Homo sapiens: one gene and its partner. The protein of the gene in region 1 interacts with the protein of each later gene in a biochemical or structural test. Each region holds a gene or a part of one and is shown in the gene's direction. Other genes may lie near its edges.

What was found. The genes of interacting proteins can lie anywhere in the genome.
Region 2: the proteins of VCP (region 1) and ATXN3 form a complex in vitro, tested with the Homo sapiens proteins (5 studies listed by BioGRID and IntAct, with this or other methods).

The regions. Positions count from the first base shown.
Region 1 is NC_000009.12:35,055,622-35,062,712, reverse strand, and holds the end of VCP (transitional endoplasmic reticulum ATPase), read left to right. Parts: intron 1-362; coding exon 363-496; intron 497-574; coding exon 575-710; intron 711-1,023; coding exon 1,024-1,136; intron 1,137-1,533; coding exon 1,534-1,698; intron 1,699-1,789; coding exon 1,790-1,912; intron 1,913-2,187; coding exon 2,188-2,400; intron 2,401-2,911; coding exon 2,912-3,220; intron 3,221-3,493; coding exon 3,494-3,649; intron 3,650-5,182; coding exon 5,183-5,337; intron 5,338-5,490; coding exon 5,491-5,596; 3' UTR 5,597-6,649; downstream 6,650-7,091. UniProt on the Homo sapiens protein: Necessary for the fragmentation of Golgi stacks during mitosis and for their reassembly after mitosis. Involved in the formation of the transitional endoplasmic reticulum (tER).
Region 2 is NC_000014.9:92,103,583-92,111,348, reverse strand, and holds the start of ATXN3 (ataxin-3 reference isoform), read left to right. Parts: upstream 1-4,766; 5' UTR 4,767-4,796; coding exon 4,797-4,820; intron 4,821-7,766. UniProt on the Homo sapiens protein: Deubiquitinating enzyme involved in protein homeostasis maintenance, transcription, cytoskeleton regulation, myogenesis and degradation of misfolded chaperone substrates.

The DNA.
Region 1 (7,091 bases):
GGTTAGTGATTTGAGAGGGTTTGGGGCAAATGAACTTTGATCACTGGCTCTTGGAGAATGCTGTTTAGTGGTGTGCCATCTGGTGTGCCATCTCTCTTGCTCTAGCCAGAGGTCCTAGAGCATTTGCTGTCACCTTTACAGTTCAACTGTGAGAAGAGTATAGTGAGTCCCTGGGCTTCTCTCCAGCCTTGCCTGGTGGCTGTCCTGGGATAATGGCTGGTAGAGGATGTGAGAAGTAGGCAGAGGTTACCACCTTCTCACCCAGGACCTGTCTCTGGGCCAAACAAGCAAGATAACTGATTTTTGGGAGGAATTGGGAAAGACTATCATTTTGTTATTGTCTCCATTCTGTATCCTTTCAGGTCCTGAGATCATGAGCAAATTGGCTGGTGAGTCTGAGAGCAACCTTCGTAAAGCCTTTGAGGAGGCTGAGAAGAATGCTCCTGCCATCATCTTCATTGATGAGCTAGATGCCATCGCTCCCAAAAGAGAGAAAGTAGGAGCTTACCTGAGGGGATAGAGGGGGGTTGAAAGGCCCTGACTTCACTTCTGACCAGACATCCTGTTCTGGCAGACTCATGGCGAGGTGGAGCGGCGCATTGTATCACAGTTGTTGACCCTCATGGATGGCCTAAAGCAGAGGGCACATGTGATTGTTATGGCAGCAACCAACAGACCCAACAGCATTGACCCAGCTCTACGGCGATTTGGTAAGGACTCCAGATACTTTTGACCCCGTCCTTGCTTAGGTCCTACTTCTCTCCTTCATCTAAGTCACCTAATCCTCTTGAAGCCCTTCACAGTGATTGGGTCCAGGGGTCTTTTTCCTTTACCCTACGTCCTGTCTAGAGTGACCAACCACCCTGGTTTTCCTGAGACTGAAAGGTTTCCCAGAGCTTGAGACTTTTTTAGTGCTGGCATTAGGACAATCCTGTGCTGGCTGAGATGGTTGGTCACCCTAGGCCTGTCTCTTACCTCTGGACTAGAGATGAGCCCTGTTTATGTTTGTGTACTGTCCCACAGGTCGCTTTGACAGGGAGGTAGATATTGGAATTCCTGATGCTACAGGACGCTTAGAGATTCTTCAGATCCATACCAAGAACATGAAGCTGGCAGATGATGTGGACCTGGAACAGGTGAAGTGATGATGATGGCTGACCAGGCGTTACAGTGTCTCTAGGCAGTTGCTGGGAACTGGCTAGAGACATAAGGTTAAGATGTGAGGAGATGGGTTTTGATTTCTGGACAGGGGAAAGGAAGTAATCTGAGATTGAATCCAGGAAATGGGAGTTGGCATTTTTCATAGTTGACGCTGCATTTAGAGTAAATCAGAATTGTTGGAGCAGCCTTATTTCTAGGTCCCAAGTCCAGAATTAAGTACTTAAAACCCAGCCCATAAAGGTATTGATAGTATATATTCAAGGAAATGAGAGGACCCAGGGATAGCAGTCAGGGGAAGGATTCTATTGTCTCTGAGCCTCCTGCAGCAGCTGGGTCTTTGAGGCAGCATAGTAAGTAGATCTTTCTCTGCAGGTAGCCAATGAGACTCACGGGCATGTGGGTGCTGACTTAGCAGCCCTGTGCTCAGAGGCTGCTCTGCAAGCCATCCGCAAGAAGATGGATCTCATTGACCTAGAGGATGAGACCATTGATGCCGAGGTCATGAACTCTCTAGCAGTTACTATGGATGACTTCCGGGTAAGGACCACACCCGTGCCTCAGGTACACACATACGTGCTTTGACCCCTCCCTTGATAAGTCTCATCCCCAGTTTTCCCTCCTTTTCTAGTGGGCCTTGAGCCAGAGTAACCCATCAGCACTGCGGGAAACCGTGGTAGAGGTGCCACAGGTAACCTGGGAAGACATCGGGGGCCTAGAGGATGTCAAACGTGAGCTACAGGAGCTGGTCCAGGTAGGGCAACTTGGTCCAGGGTGAGTCACTGTCTCAGTACATTGTAATTGATCTGGGTGATCTCAGGGTGTCAACACATTTGCTGCAAGAGTTGTGAGAGCACGACTTAGGAACCTACTGTTCTTAGGTTTGAGGCACTAAGGAGTCTTCTTCTAGAGAACCTGGATCTGATACCATTGGGTACACCATGAAATAATGGAGGGGATGCTTCTGTTTAGTTAGGTTTCTTTCAAAATGTGGAGGTAGCCTTGAACCCTCTTTCCTTTTCCTCCTAGTATCCTGTGGAGCACCCAGACAAATTCCTGAAGTTTGGCATGACACCTTCCAAGGGAGTTCTGTTCTATGGACCTCCTGGCTGTGGGAAAACTTTGTTGGCCAAAGCCATTGCTAATGAATGCCAGGCCAACTTCATCTCCATCAAGGGTCCTGAGCTGCTCACCATGTGGTTTGGGGAGTCTGAGGCCAATGTCAGAGAAATCTTTGACAAGGTGAGCTACAATAGGCTGAACTATGTATTGATTTGCCTGAGGGCAAGGAATAGAGGCTGTTTTTCTTTAAGAGGGTTGAAATATTCTTAGTGCTGGCTGCTCAACTGCACAGTAAGTCACTTGATTTTCTTTCTGAGGTCTGAGAGACCTAGTGTTATTTTTTTTTTCTCTCTCTCTCTCTTGAGACAGGGTCTGGCTCTGTTGCCCAGGTTGGAGGGCAGTGGTACAGTCATGGCTCACTGTAACCTTGAAACCTGGGCTTAAGCAATTCTCCTACTTCAGCCTCCTGAGTAGCTGGGACTATAGGCATGCGTCACCACATCTGGCTAATTTTTTATTTTTTGTAGAGACAAAGTCTCAGTATGTTGCCCATGCTGGTTTCGGATTTCTGGCCTCAAGTGATCCTCCCACCTTGGCCTCCCAAAGTGCTGGGAATACAGGTGTGAGCCACCACGTTTGCCTAGAGACATCTAGTTTTGTTAGTGCTTGAATCAATCCATTCCTCCTACAGGCCCGCCAAGCTGCCCCCTGTGTGCTATTCTTTGATGAGCTGGATTCGATTGCCAAGGCTCGTGGAGGTAACATTGGAGATGGTGGTGGGGCTGCTGACCGAGTCATCAACCAGATCCTGACAGAAATGGATGGCATGTCCACAAAAAAAAATGTGTTCATCATTGGCGCTACCAACCGGCCTGACATCATTGATCCTGCCATCCTCAGACCTGGCCGTCTTGATCAGCTCATCTACATCCCACTTCCTGATGAGAAGTCCCGTGTTGCCATCCTCAAGGCTAACCTGCGCAAGTCCCCAGTTGCCAAGGCAGGTGCAAGATCATGGGCTGTGGGAGACTTGCATGAGTCCTCAGGCTGGTACGGAGTGCTCTTTAGTTTCTGGACAAGATTCCACTGGGGTTAGGGTTGGTCTAAAGGGAAGGTAGAATTTTTGAGGATATCAAGATAATCTAGAATCAGGAATAAAATGGGGTGGCCAAAGAAGGGGCAAACTGTAGTTGGGAGTGCTCGGGTAGCCCAAAGATCTGCGTATCTCGAGAGGAGAGGCTAAATGCTAAGGTACCTCTGCTGCTGCTTTTAGGATGTGGACTTGGAGTTCCTGGCTAAAATGACTAATGGCTTCTCTGGAGCTGACCTGACAGAGATTTGCCAGCGTGCTTGCAAGCTGGCCATCCGTGAATCCATCGAGAGTGAGATTAGGCGAGAACGAGAGAGGCAGACAAACCCATCAGCCATGGTGAGTCTGCATCCTTTCCCCAGATGTGCCAATCATGGAGAGCCAGGCAGCAGCCACCACCATGCCCTGGAGTTGAGAGTAGAAGCTGTTGGAAAGATCATCTAACTGAGAAGAATTTTAATAGGGCATCAAAGATAAAGAATGCTGAGGTGAATCCATTCAATTTGGAATAAGGCCGAGAAGAGATGGTCAGGCTCCATTCTCAGTCTGAACCAAGCTCCATGAGGGAAATCAAAGTATGAGAGTGCAGCAAACACAGCAAGGTTTTTTTTGTTTTTTGTTTTTTGTTTTTTTTTTGAGACGAAGTCTCACTCTGTTGCCCAGACTGGAGTGCAGTGGCACGATCTTGGCTCACTGCAACTTCTGCCTCCCAGGTTCAAGCGATTCTCCTGCCTCAGCCTCCCGAGTAGCTGGGACTACAGGCACATGCCACCATGTCCGGCTAGTTTTTTGTATTTTTTTTTTAGTAGAAACGTGGTTTCACCACGTTAGCCAGGATGGTCTCGATCTCCTGACCTTGTGATGTGCCCACCTCGGCCTCCCAAAGTGCTGGGATTACAGGCGTGAACCACAGAGCAAGGTTTTGAGCTGAGATGAGACTCATATACTTATCCCTGATGGTTGGGGAAGGGATAGGGTCCACAGACCTCCCAAAATGAAAAGGCAAATTCATGTGTTTGTAAGTTCCATAAAGGTAAGATCTCTGTCATCTCACTTGTTTTCCACTATGTCTTGTGTTACCCTTAATTAATTCATTAAGTTCCAAACATGGGACTTAATGAGCAAATAAATGGCTTTCTTTCCCTTTTGAAGGGTCTGTGACATCCCTTCTCTCTCCCATAAAAGCTTAACAACTACTGATGAACTAATCCTAGGAGGTAGTCACATAAGTCACAGAAATTGGCCTCTCAATGGAAGAGATAGGTTTTGAGCTGGGCTGTGAAGAGAGTAGAATTTGAATAAAGGGAATAAGCAGCCCAAATAATGTGCTCTAGTAGTAGGATTGCAATCATTGGGAAACCCTGGGTAGATTTAAGAGTATATATGTCACTGGAAGTGAGACCGCTAGGTAGGATGTAATCCAAATGTGGTAAGCACTGAAAGCCATTGGCATTTCCTTTTAAAGTATTAAGGTTTATTAAGGTATGATATAAATACAATAAAATTCACTCTTTCTATATACCATTTCCATGCTTTATGACAAGTGTGTGTAAGTTCTATAACTACTACCACAGTTGAGACTTAAAATTTCTACTATCTCAAAAAGTTTCCTTAGCCACTTCAGTCAACATCTCCCCTCCTTAAGCCCCATCACTGATGTGATTTCTGTCCCTACAGTTTTCCCTTTTCCAGAGTGCATTGACAAGTTTTTAAGCAGAGCAGTGACTCAATTTTAGGAAGCATGGCCTAGCATCTTACCTCAGGTTGGATTGGAAGGGCAAGGAGACCAATAAACTGCAGTAATGGGAGGCCTGGGATGAAATCCAGGCTGGGCTTTAACTAGCCCTAGTGATCTGTGTTTACCAACTATAGGAGGTAGAAGAGGATGATCCAGTGCCTGAGATCCGTCGAGATCACTTTGAAGAAGCCATGCGCTTTGCGCGCCGTTCTGTCAGTGACAATGACATTCGGAAGTATGAGATGTTTGCCCAGACCCTTCAGCAGAGTCGGGGCTTTGGCAGCTTCAGGTAAGTTGGTTGGGAGCATTAGACAGTGCTTAAGTTACTTTGGGGACCTACACCAAAAGGGATGGGAGTCCTAAGGAAGCTAGAGGGGTAGTTGTGGAAATCTTACACAGGCCCTGTCCTAACCCTCTTTTTTGGCTTTGCTCTTGTACACAGATTCCCTTCAGGGAACCAGGGTGGAGCTGGCCCCAGTCAGGGCAGTGGAGGCGGCACAGGTGGCAGTGTATACACAGAAGACAATGATGATGACCTGTATGGCTAAGTGGTGGTGGCCAGCGTGCAGTGAGCTGGCCTGCCTGGACCTTGTTCCCTGGGGGTGGGGGCGCTTGCCCAGGAGAGGGACCAGGGGTGCGCCCACAGCCTGCTCCATTCTCCAGTCTGAACAGTTCAGCTACAGTCTGACTCTGGACAGGGGGTTTCTGTTGCAAAAATACAAAACAAAAGCGATAAAATAAAAGCGATTTTCATTTGGTAGGCGGAGAGTGAATTACCAACAGGGAATTGGGCCTTGGGCCTATGCCATTTCTGTTGTAGTTTGGGGCAGTGCAGGGGACCTGTGTGGGGTGTGAACCAAGGCACTACTGCCACCTGCCACAGTAAAGCATCTGCACTTGACTCAATGCTGCCCGAGCCCTCCCTTCCCCCTATCCAACCTGGGTAGGTGGGTAGGGGCCACAGTTGCTGGATGTTTATATAGAGAGTAGGTTGATTTATTTTACATGCTTTTGAGTTAATGTTGGAAAACTAATCACAAGCAGTTTCTAAACCAAAAAATGACATGTTGTAAAAGGACAATAAACGTTGGGTCAAAATGGAGCCTGAGTCCTGGGCCCTGTGCCTGCTTCTTTTCCTGGGAACAGCCTTGGGCTACCCACCACTCCCAAGGCATTCTTCCAAATGTGAAATCCTGGAAGTAAGATTGCACCTTCTTCCTCTCCTGATCAACATCGGTATGATGTCTCCTGTTGCCTCACCCTTTGTCTGCAGTATCACTGGATAGGACTGGTGGAAAGGGAGCAGCCTGACAGAGCTCCAAATGTGGAGAATATGGCATCCCTCCACCTATATTTGATGTGGACGGTAAGGCTAGGCCTGCAGGATCCCTTATCCTGACCAAAGACTGTGTTGGGGTGCCATTTGAAAATCGCAGGGTTGCAAAAGAATACAATCTTACTTGCAGGTGGATATTCTCTATACTCTCTTTTAATGCATCTAAAAATCCCAAACATCCCCTGGTTGGTGATCACTTACAGTTGTGTCCACCTTTATTTTATGTACTTTGATTAAAAAAAAAAAACTTTTTGTTAATATAAAATTTTAGTATTGAATTTTTTTTTTTTCCAAACAGAAAATAGACTATCCTCTTCAACAGTAATCACTTAGTGCTTCTAGGGTCAGTACAGTGATGCCTTACCCAGAGAGAGAGTAGTGCAGAGAAAATAAATTACTAAATTAAATATATGTTGATTGGCTTTGGGACATAATCTCAAAAGACAGTCCTGAACACCGTAATTTTGAATAAAATACTGTAATCTCCAAAGATCAAAATCCCTAAAGTCTAAAATTCTGAAAATCACAATCCCAAAAGGTCAAAATCCCAAAATACAATTCTGGAAGAAATACTAAACATTCTTCGAAAATTTACTTACATTTTTAAAAGCGTATTTATTTGAGAAACAACACAACAGAACGTTTCATAGGCCACTACACGATAAAATAGGGAATAGTAACATTTTTGCAAGATAAACACTCAGGTA
Region 2 (7,766 bases), on another chromosome or scaffold:
CCCTCAAAAGCTGATAGTTCAGTAGTATATAAAGTAATACTTCCAGTATGATGTAATGGTGCTGTAATGTAGGCATGCTCAAGGTGTAGCGGTGGCACAAAATACTTTTCCTTAGTGAACTTTCCAGAAGTAAAAGGAAGAAGCTAGTATGACTAGAGTCTGGAGTGACTGGGGCAGAGAGAATTTGGGGAGAACAGAACAGGACAGGTGGTTGGTCCAGATCACAGAGCTTTTCAGGCCAGCAATAGGATGGCAATAGGAAGTCACTGAAGGATTTTTTTTTTTTTTTTTTTTTTTTGAGGCAGAGTCTCACTCTGTTGCCCAGGCTGGAGTGCACTGTTGCGATCTCATCTCACTGCAACCTCTGCCGCCCAGGTTCAAGCAATTCTGCCTCAGCTTCCCAAGTAGCTGGGATTACAGGTGCCCACCACAACACCCGGCTAATTTTTGTATTTTTAGTAGAGATGGGGTTTCACCATGTTGGATAGGCTGGTCTTGAACTCCTGACCTCAGGTGATCCACCCGCCTCGGCCTCCCAAAGTACTGGGATTACAGGCATGAGCCATTGCACCCGGCCATCACTGAAGGATTTTGAAGTCAGAGTTGTGTAATCATTTAAGAATCCCTGCCAATGTAAGTCCCCTGAAGGTGGGACTGTTTGTGTTTTTCATGGTTATAGTCCCAGGGCCTGATATGCAGTTATTCTTGTTAAACAAAAGAAAATCTTGTGAGATTTGCATTTTTGGAAGATCACTGACAGCACCATGAATTAGACATATTGAGACTGGAATCAGAAGACCAATTCAAAGATCCTTGGACTAGAGTACACAAGATACCAAGAGGGCTTGAACTAAGTAGTAGCAATGAAGACAAGGGCAAGAGAGAGTTAGGAGTGGATTTATAGCATTTGAGGACTGATTGGAATAAGGGGTGACGTGGAGAAGTTGTGGGAAGAGAATAAAAAATGATTCCCAGATACTTGGTGCTATGATCTGAATGTTTGTATCTTTCCAAAATTCATTTGTTGAAATGTAGTCTCCAGTGTGTTGGTTTAACAGATGGGGCCTTTGGGAGATGATTAGATCATAAGGCCAAGCCTTGTGACTGAGATTAGTGCCCTTATGCAGAGAGGAAGCTTGTTTGCCCCTTTTCCCCTTCCACCATGTGAGGACAAAAAAATGCACCATCTATGAGGAATGGGCCCTCACCAGACACTAAATCCGTTAGAGCCTTGATCTTGGACTTCCTAGCCTGTAAATTTATTACAGATCTGTAATAAACTTCTGTTTATAAATTACTCTAAGATATCTTGTTAAAGCGCCCCAAAAAGACTAAGACCTTCGACTTCATTAATTCATTTGAAAGACATCAACTACAATTTAAAAAAACAAAACAAAAACAGAAAAGGTGGTTTGCAATTTTTTTCACTTCATGAGACTATAATTTATTTCCCTGGGTAGGCCACACAAATCCTTAAGAACATGGACTTTCCCCCATACAAGGCTGTGAACCGTGCACACAGAGATGCTCGATAAATGGTACCGAATCCTCTCCTTCAGCACCTGGTCCTCTCTGGCAGTCTCCATTCTCTTACCTCTCACTGCCCCCTCTACTTCTCTGAACCTGCAGTCCCCAAAGTCACCAATGGTCTCCATAGCAACAAAATTTAGTGGGCTCTTATACGACCTTATATTGCTTGACTTCTTGGCAGCAACTGACACTGACTACCCCTTGAAGCATCCCCTGCCCAGGCCTTCCACAATGTCACACTCTCTTGCTTCTCCTCCCTCCTCCTTGGTTATTGCTTCTCCTATCCTCACGGCTCAGCTCTAGCCCTCTTCTCAATCACTTCCTTTTCCCTAAAATGATTTTATTCACTCCTATGGTTTCAGTTACTTTTTTTTTTTTTTTTTTTTGAGACACAGTTTCACTCTGTTGTCCAGGCTGGAGTGCAATAGCACGATCTTGGCTCACTGCAACCTCTACCTCCCGGTTCAAGTGATTCTCCTGCCTCAGCCTCCTGAGTAGCTGGGATTATAGGCATGAGCCACCACGCCCGGCTAATTTTTGTATTTTTGTAGAGATGAGGTTTCACCATGTTGGCCAGCCTGGTCTTGAACTCCTGGCCTCAAGAGATCTGCCTGCCTCAGCCTCCCAAAGTGCTGGGATTACAGGCATGCACCACCACAATGGCCTTAGCTATCTGTTTTTTAATGACAATTCCTCATTGAGTTCAAAGCAGCCTCCTGAACTTCAGACTCGGTATCCAACCATTACTCAACATAATTACTCAAATGTCCATAGATATTTCAAATTCAGTATCTCCAAAATGTAAACTCTATCTTATTCTCTTCCCAAAACCTTGCTGCTCCTCCCATGTTTCTGCTCTCAATACCACTCCTGCCACAGTGGCTGCCCAGGTCACAAACCCAGAAGTCACCTTCACATTTCTGTCTCCTACCTTCCCCAATCCCTCATTGTGGTAGGAGTTATTAAGAAATTATTTTAGGCAGATAGAGAGGAAAAGGGGTCCTTGAAAAGTTTTTGTCTCTTTTGAAGCAGCTCCTGAGACGTTTCCTGTCTAGCATAAAAGCCCTGACTTTTAGACCCGAGCTGGCAACGTTTGATATGCAAATGCCGGCAGTTAGAAACTGGGTCCACCAACACGGTGATTCCCACCATCGTCCTCTTGCCCTTGTTCTCACAAGTGCCTGGCAACATGGCCACCCCCACATATCCCCACATGAGTAGAACATCATAGCGCCCTGCATTTGCATATTAAAAGGCTAGGGTGGAATGGCCAGTTTTATTAGGGGGCTACATGAATGACATGCGTGGTCAAACCAGTCCCCTGAGCCCTATGCAAATCAGACACCGCCTCCTGCATCCTCCTCCTATAACTGGCTGGTATCTCCCACGCACTCTGGGTCTCCTCTCTCAGCTTTGGAGCACCCATCCCTCTGTCTCTGTACAGGGGAGCTGCTTCTTTCTTTCTTCTCCCTTCCTTCTTGCTTATTAAACTCTCCGCTCCTTAAAACCACTCCACGTTTGTCCATGTCGTTTTATGTAATTCGACTCAAGACGAAAAAGGCTAGTATTCCTCCACTCGGTATCATCACCACATTCTGTTGAGTCTCTTTACGTCCAAAGAATCTCTCAAAATGGGCTATTTCCATCTTTAAGACACTCTCTTAAACCACCATCGTCTCTCCCAAGATTCCTTCAACAGCAACTGCTTTTTTCTGCAGCCAGTGATCTTTCTAAAAGGCAAACATGACCACATGTCTTCTTTTAAAATATTTATATAGCTCCCCACATCCTTTAAAAGGTACACTTTGGCCAGGTGCGGTGGCTCACGCCTGTAATTCCAGGACTTTGGGAGGCCAAGGCAGGTGGATCACCTGAGGCTGGGGGTTCGAGACCAGCCTGGCCAACATGGTACAACCTCTTCTCTACTAAGAATACAAAAATAGTTGGACTTCGTGGTGCACGCCTGTAATCCCAGCTGTTTGGGAGGCTGAGGCAAGAGAATCACTTGAACCCAGGAAGCAGAAGTTGCAGTGAGCGGGGAGATTGTGCCACTGCACTCCAGCCTGGGGGACAGAGAGAGGGCCGTCTCAAAAAAAAAAAAAAAAAAAGTACACCTTAATCTGGTTTCAAGGTGCAAGATCTGCACCTATCCTTCCATTTAAGTTTCATCAAACCGCTGCTACCTCCCCGTCTCCCACACAATTTATGGGACTTCTAAGTTCCCTCTAAAGGGTCCGAACACCTACACTGGTAACAAGCCACCTGGATTTGAATCCTGGCAAGACAACTTACTATCTGACCTTGGACATTGTGCTGTTCTTAACCTCTCCGTGCCTCGGTTTCCTCATGTGTATGAATAACATCAACACCTACATCAAAGTTTGCTGTATTAAATTTGATAATATATGCAAAGCATTTAGAAAAGTGCCTAGCTCATAGAAAGCCTTATGTAAATATTAACTATCATTTTTTTTCTTTTTTGGGGTGGTGGGGGAGGGGTTTCGCTTTTGTTGCCCAGGCTGGCGTGCAATGGCACGATCTCGGCTCACCACAACCTCGGCCTCCCGGGTTCAAGCGATTCTCCTGCCTCAGCCTCCCGAGTACCTGGGATTACAGGCATGCACCACCACGCCCGGGTAATTTTGTATTTTTAGTGGAGACGGGGTTTCTCCATGTTGGTCAGGCTGATCTCAAACTCCCGACCTCAGGTGATCCGCCCGCCTCGGCCTCCCAAAGTGCTGGGATTACAAGCGTGAAGCACCTCGCCCGGCCTAGCTATCATTTTTATACAAGTGCTGGGTTTTGGGAGAATGTAATGATGGCTTTTTTCTTACTAAACTTTCAGTGCAGGAGGAGGAGAAAGAAAGTAAATAGTTATATGAACACAGTAGAAAGTCAAAGTGGAAAACAAAAAGAACATAGAACCCAGGTGAGCGGTCCAGACCTCCCCCCAGAAACCTAAGAATCCATAGAAATGGGTGGGAAGCGGAGAAGATCCTCCAGACAGCAGGTGGCGATGTAGCATCCCCCAGAAGGCCCGCTAACAGAAGCTAGGAGGACGCGCTACCAAGGTCACGTGTCCCCGGCGTTCACTCGCTCTTCGCTTCACGACACTCGCATCCTCACGGGTGATTGGTCTGCGTGCGGCACGTGGGCGGGGTACCGGGGCGGGCCGGGGAGGGGCGGGGTGGGCGGAGGAGAGGGGCAGGGGGCGGAGCTGGAGGGGGTGGTTCGGCGTGGGGGCCGTTGGCTCCAGACAAATAAACATGGAGTCCATCTTCCACGAGAAAGTGAGTGTCCGCGTTCGGTGGGGAGCTGTCTGCCGCGCGGTGGCGGGCGTGGAGCGCGGCATCACCGCCTCTCGGAGGGCTGGGTGGGGCCCGAGTCGCCCCCATGCCGATCTCGCCCGGCGAGGGGCGACGCCGCAGCCTCCCGCCTCCTCGGCTCGAGGAGGGGAGCATCACCTACGCCCCTACTTCCCCCGCGGCCCCCGCCCTGGGAGCCGGGAGGGAGTATGGGCGGGGCCGGGGGCGTCTCGGGACACGGGAGTGGGGTGGCGCCCAGTGGGTTTGCTTCTGCCTTTCTCCGTCACTTTCCATCGCTTTTCGGAGGATTCCTTCACCCCTCCCCAATCCTTCCCTCTCCCTAGGGTCTAGCTAGAGTCATCTCTGGGACACCTCCCTCAACCCCTCCTACCCTAATCCTGGCAGAATTAACTTTTCCTCCTCCGGACTGCTCAATTCTATATTGGAGTCTTCCCTACACGTAGATCTTTGGGGTCTTGTTCGTGTCTTTCCCCTGCACTAGGTCCGCGAGCCTCCCGAGGGAGGAGACCTTGGCTCGCCCACTGTAGGGCCTGACATTTAGGAAGTGAAGTAGGAAACCCGGCGTGCCCCTAAACAGGGAAGTCGTCACAAGAGTTTTTATTACGGGATGTTTGGGTTTGGTTTCTTTTGGTACTCCCATCTTTCCGGAGCAGGCGGCCAGCTTTGTTTTTAGGTATTAGGAGTGGACTGGGATGATTTTGTTGTAGTCTGCCTAGCCTGCTGTCCCTTTAACTCTTCCGTGACCATGCACTTGAAGATACTGTTTGTGATATGTAAAGAAACTCCTCGTTTCTCTCATACTATTATCCAGCCATTTGTGTGTGAGTGAAGCCTTCCCCAGGACAGCTTTGGCACATGGTATCATGTTTCATAATAGTTTCGTGTTTGGAAAGAGTTGCTGGTAAGGCTGTTATTTAATAGGAGGAGCAAAGGGTTTTTGTTTTATTAAATACTTATAAATGATCATTTATCCCAGACATTTAAAATTCACACACACACAACAAATAAAGCAAAGACAAAAGAATACATTTACCAAATGTAAATCTGTAGCATAAATTTTTTTTAATTTTTATTTTAAAGATGGGGTCTCATTCTGTCACCCAGGCAGGTGTGCAATGGAGAGATCATGGCTCACTGCAGCCTTGATCTCCTAGGCACAAGCGATCCTCCCGCCTCTGCCTCCAGAGTAGCTGGGACTACAGGTGCATATCGCCAGGGCCAGGTAATGTTTTTGGGAGAGACGGGGTCTCGCTGTGTTGCCCAGGCTGGTCTCGAACTCCTGGACTCAGGTGATTCTCCCACCTCGGCCTCTCGAAGTGCTGTGATTACAGGCGTGAGCCACTGTGCCTGGAACAAATTGTTAAGTACAATGCTTTTCATTGTAGAAAACATCTCGGAAACTTTTGAAATAGGCTGATGTTCAGTGGGGGAGGAAGGACTCAGTCGTATAGTTGTCACTAATTTTTTGACTTGATTGACATGACTCGTAAATCATAGACAATAGAGATTTGGTTGCTTGGCTGAGTAGAGTGCGTGAAAAATACACACGTACTTTTTTTTTTTTTTTTTTGAGATGGAGTTTGGCTCTTGTCACCCAGGCTGGAGTGCAATGGCGCCATCATGGCTCACTGCAACCTCCGCCTCCCCGTTCAAGCGATTCTCCTGCCTCAGTCTCCCCAGTAGCTGAGATTACAGGCGCCCGCCACCACGCCCAGCTAATTTTTGTATTTTTAGTAGAGACAGGGTTTCACCATGTTGGCCAGGCTGGTCTCCAACTCCTGACAGGTGGTCCGCCCGCCTCGGCCTCCCAAAGTGCTGGGATTACAGGCGTGAGCCACCGCACCCGGCCATATTTTTGTTATTAATTTTCAAAGGCTTTGGTGTGGGACCACATTTCAACATGGAAGGCCTTAAACATGTTCCACACTACTTCCTGAGAATTAGACAAGATTTTTAACAATATTGTTACCTAGTTGGGACACATTTGTACTGACCCATGGGATGAAAAAAAGCTGAGTGCTAGCCTAGTGAAAATCTACTTACCCGAAAGAAATCCCTCTTAGTCTGGGTGCAGTGGCTCACACCAGTGCTTTGGGAGGCCCAGACGGGCGGATCATGAGGTCAGTAGTTTGAGACCAGCCTGGCCAACATGGTGAAACCCCGTCTCTACTAAAAATACAAAAAATTAGCCAGGTGTGGTGGCAGGCGCCTGTAATCCCAGGTACTCTGGAGGCTGAGGCAGGAGAATTGCTTGAACCCGAGAGGCAGAGGTTGCAGTGAGCCGAGACCGTGCCACTGCACTTCAGCCTGGGCAACAGAGCGAGACTCCGTCTCAAAAAAAAGAAAAGGAAAAAAGAGTCCCTCTTAATTATCAGCATGTGTATAGGCCTACAGATACTTCAGGAATACCTTTACCATTATCATCAACTTGTATCTACATAGCATGTGAAGATTCAACAATTTAGTTTTTTGGGCGTCCTCAAGAGTACGCACCTATAACCATATGGCCCAATTGTTAATCTCCTATACAGTCCATTCTGGGAATGTTTGGGCTTACTGTGCCATTTTTCCGTTCACTGCCTTCCCCTCTGCAATATACCTTTAACCCTTGCTAGGTCCTGGGTTTGGAGAGCCAGAGAACCAACTTTGGCCCTAAAGAAGCTGTGTAGGTAGCAATATCTGCCTACGAAGGGCCTTGCAACCATTTCCTCTTGGAACCTTGGTTTCCTCTTTCTGAGTAGTCACTTTGAGTACCCTTTATTAAGTTAGAATGTAAAAACAGTTTCTCACTGATATATCTGCAGTGCCTGAGAGAGGGCCTGGCACAGAGTAAGTACTCAATAAATATTTGAATGGGGCCGGGCGTGGTGAGACCTGTCTCTACAAGAATGAACAAAATTAGCTGGGCGT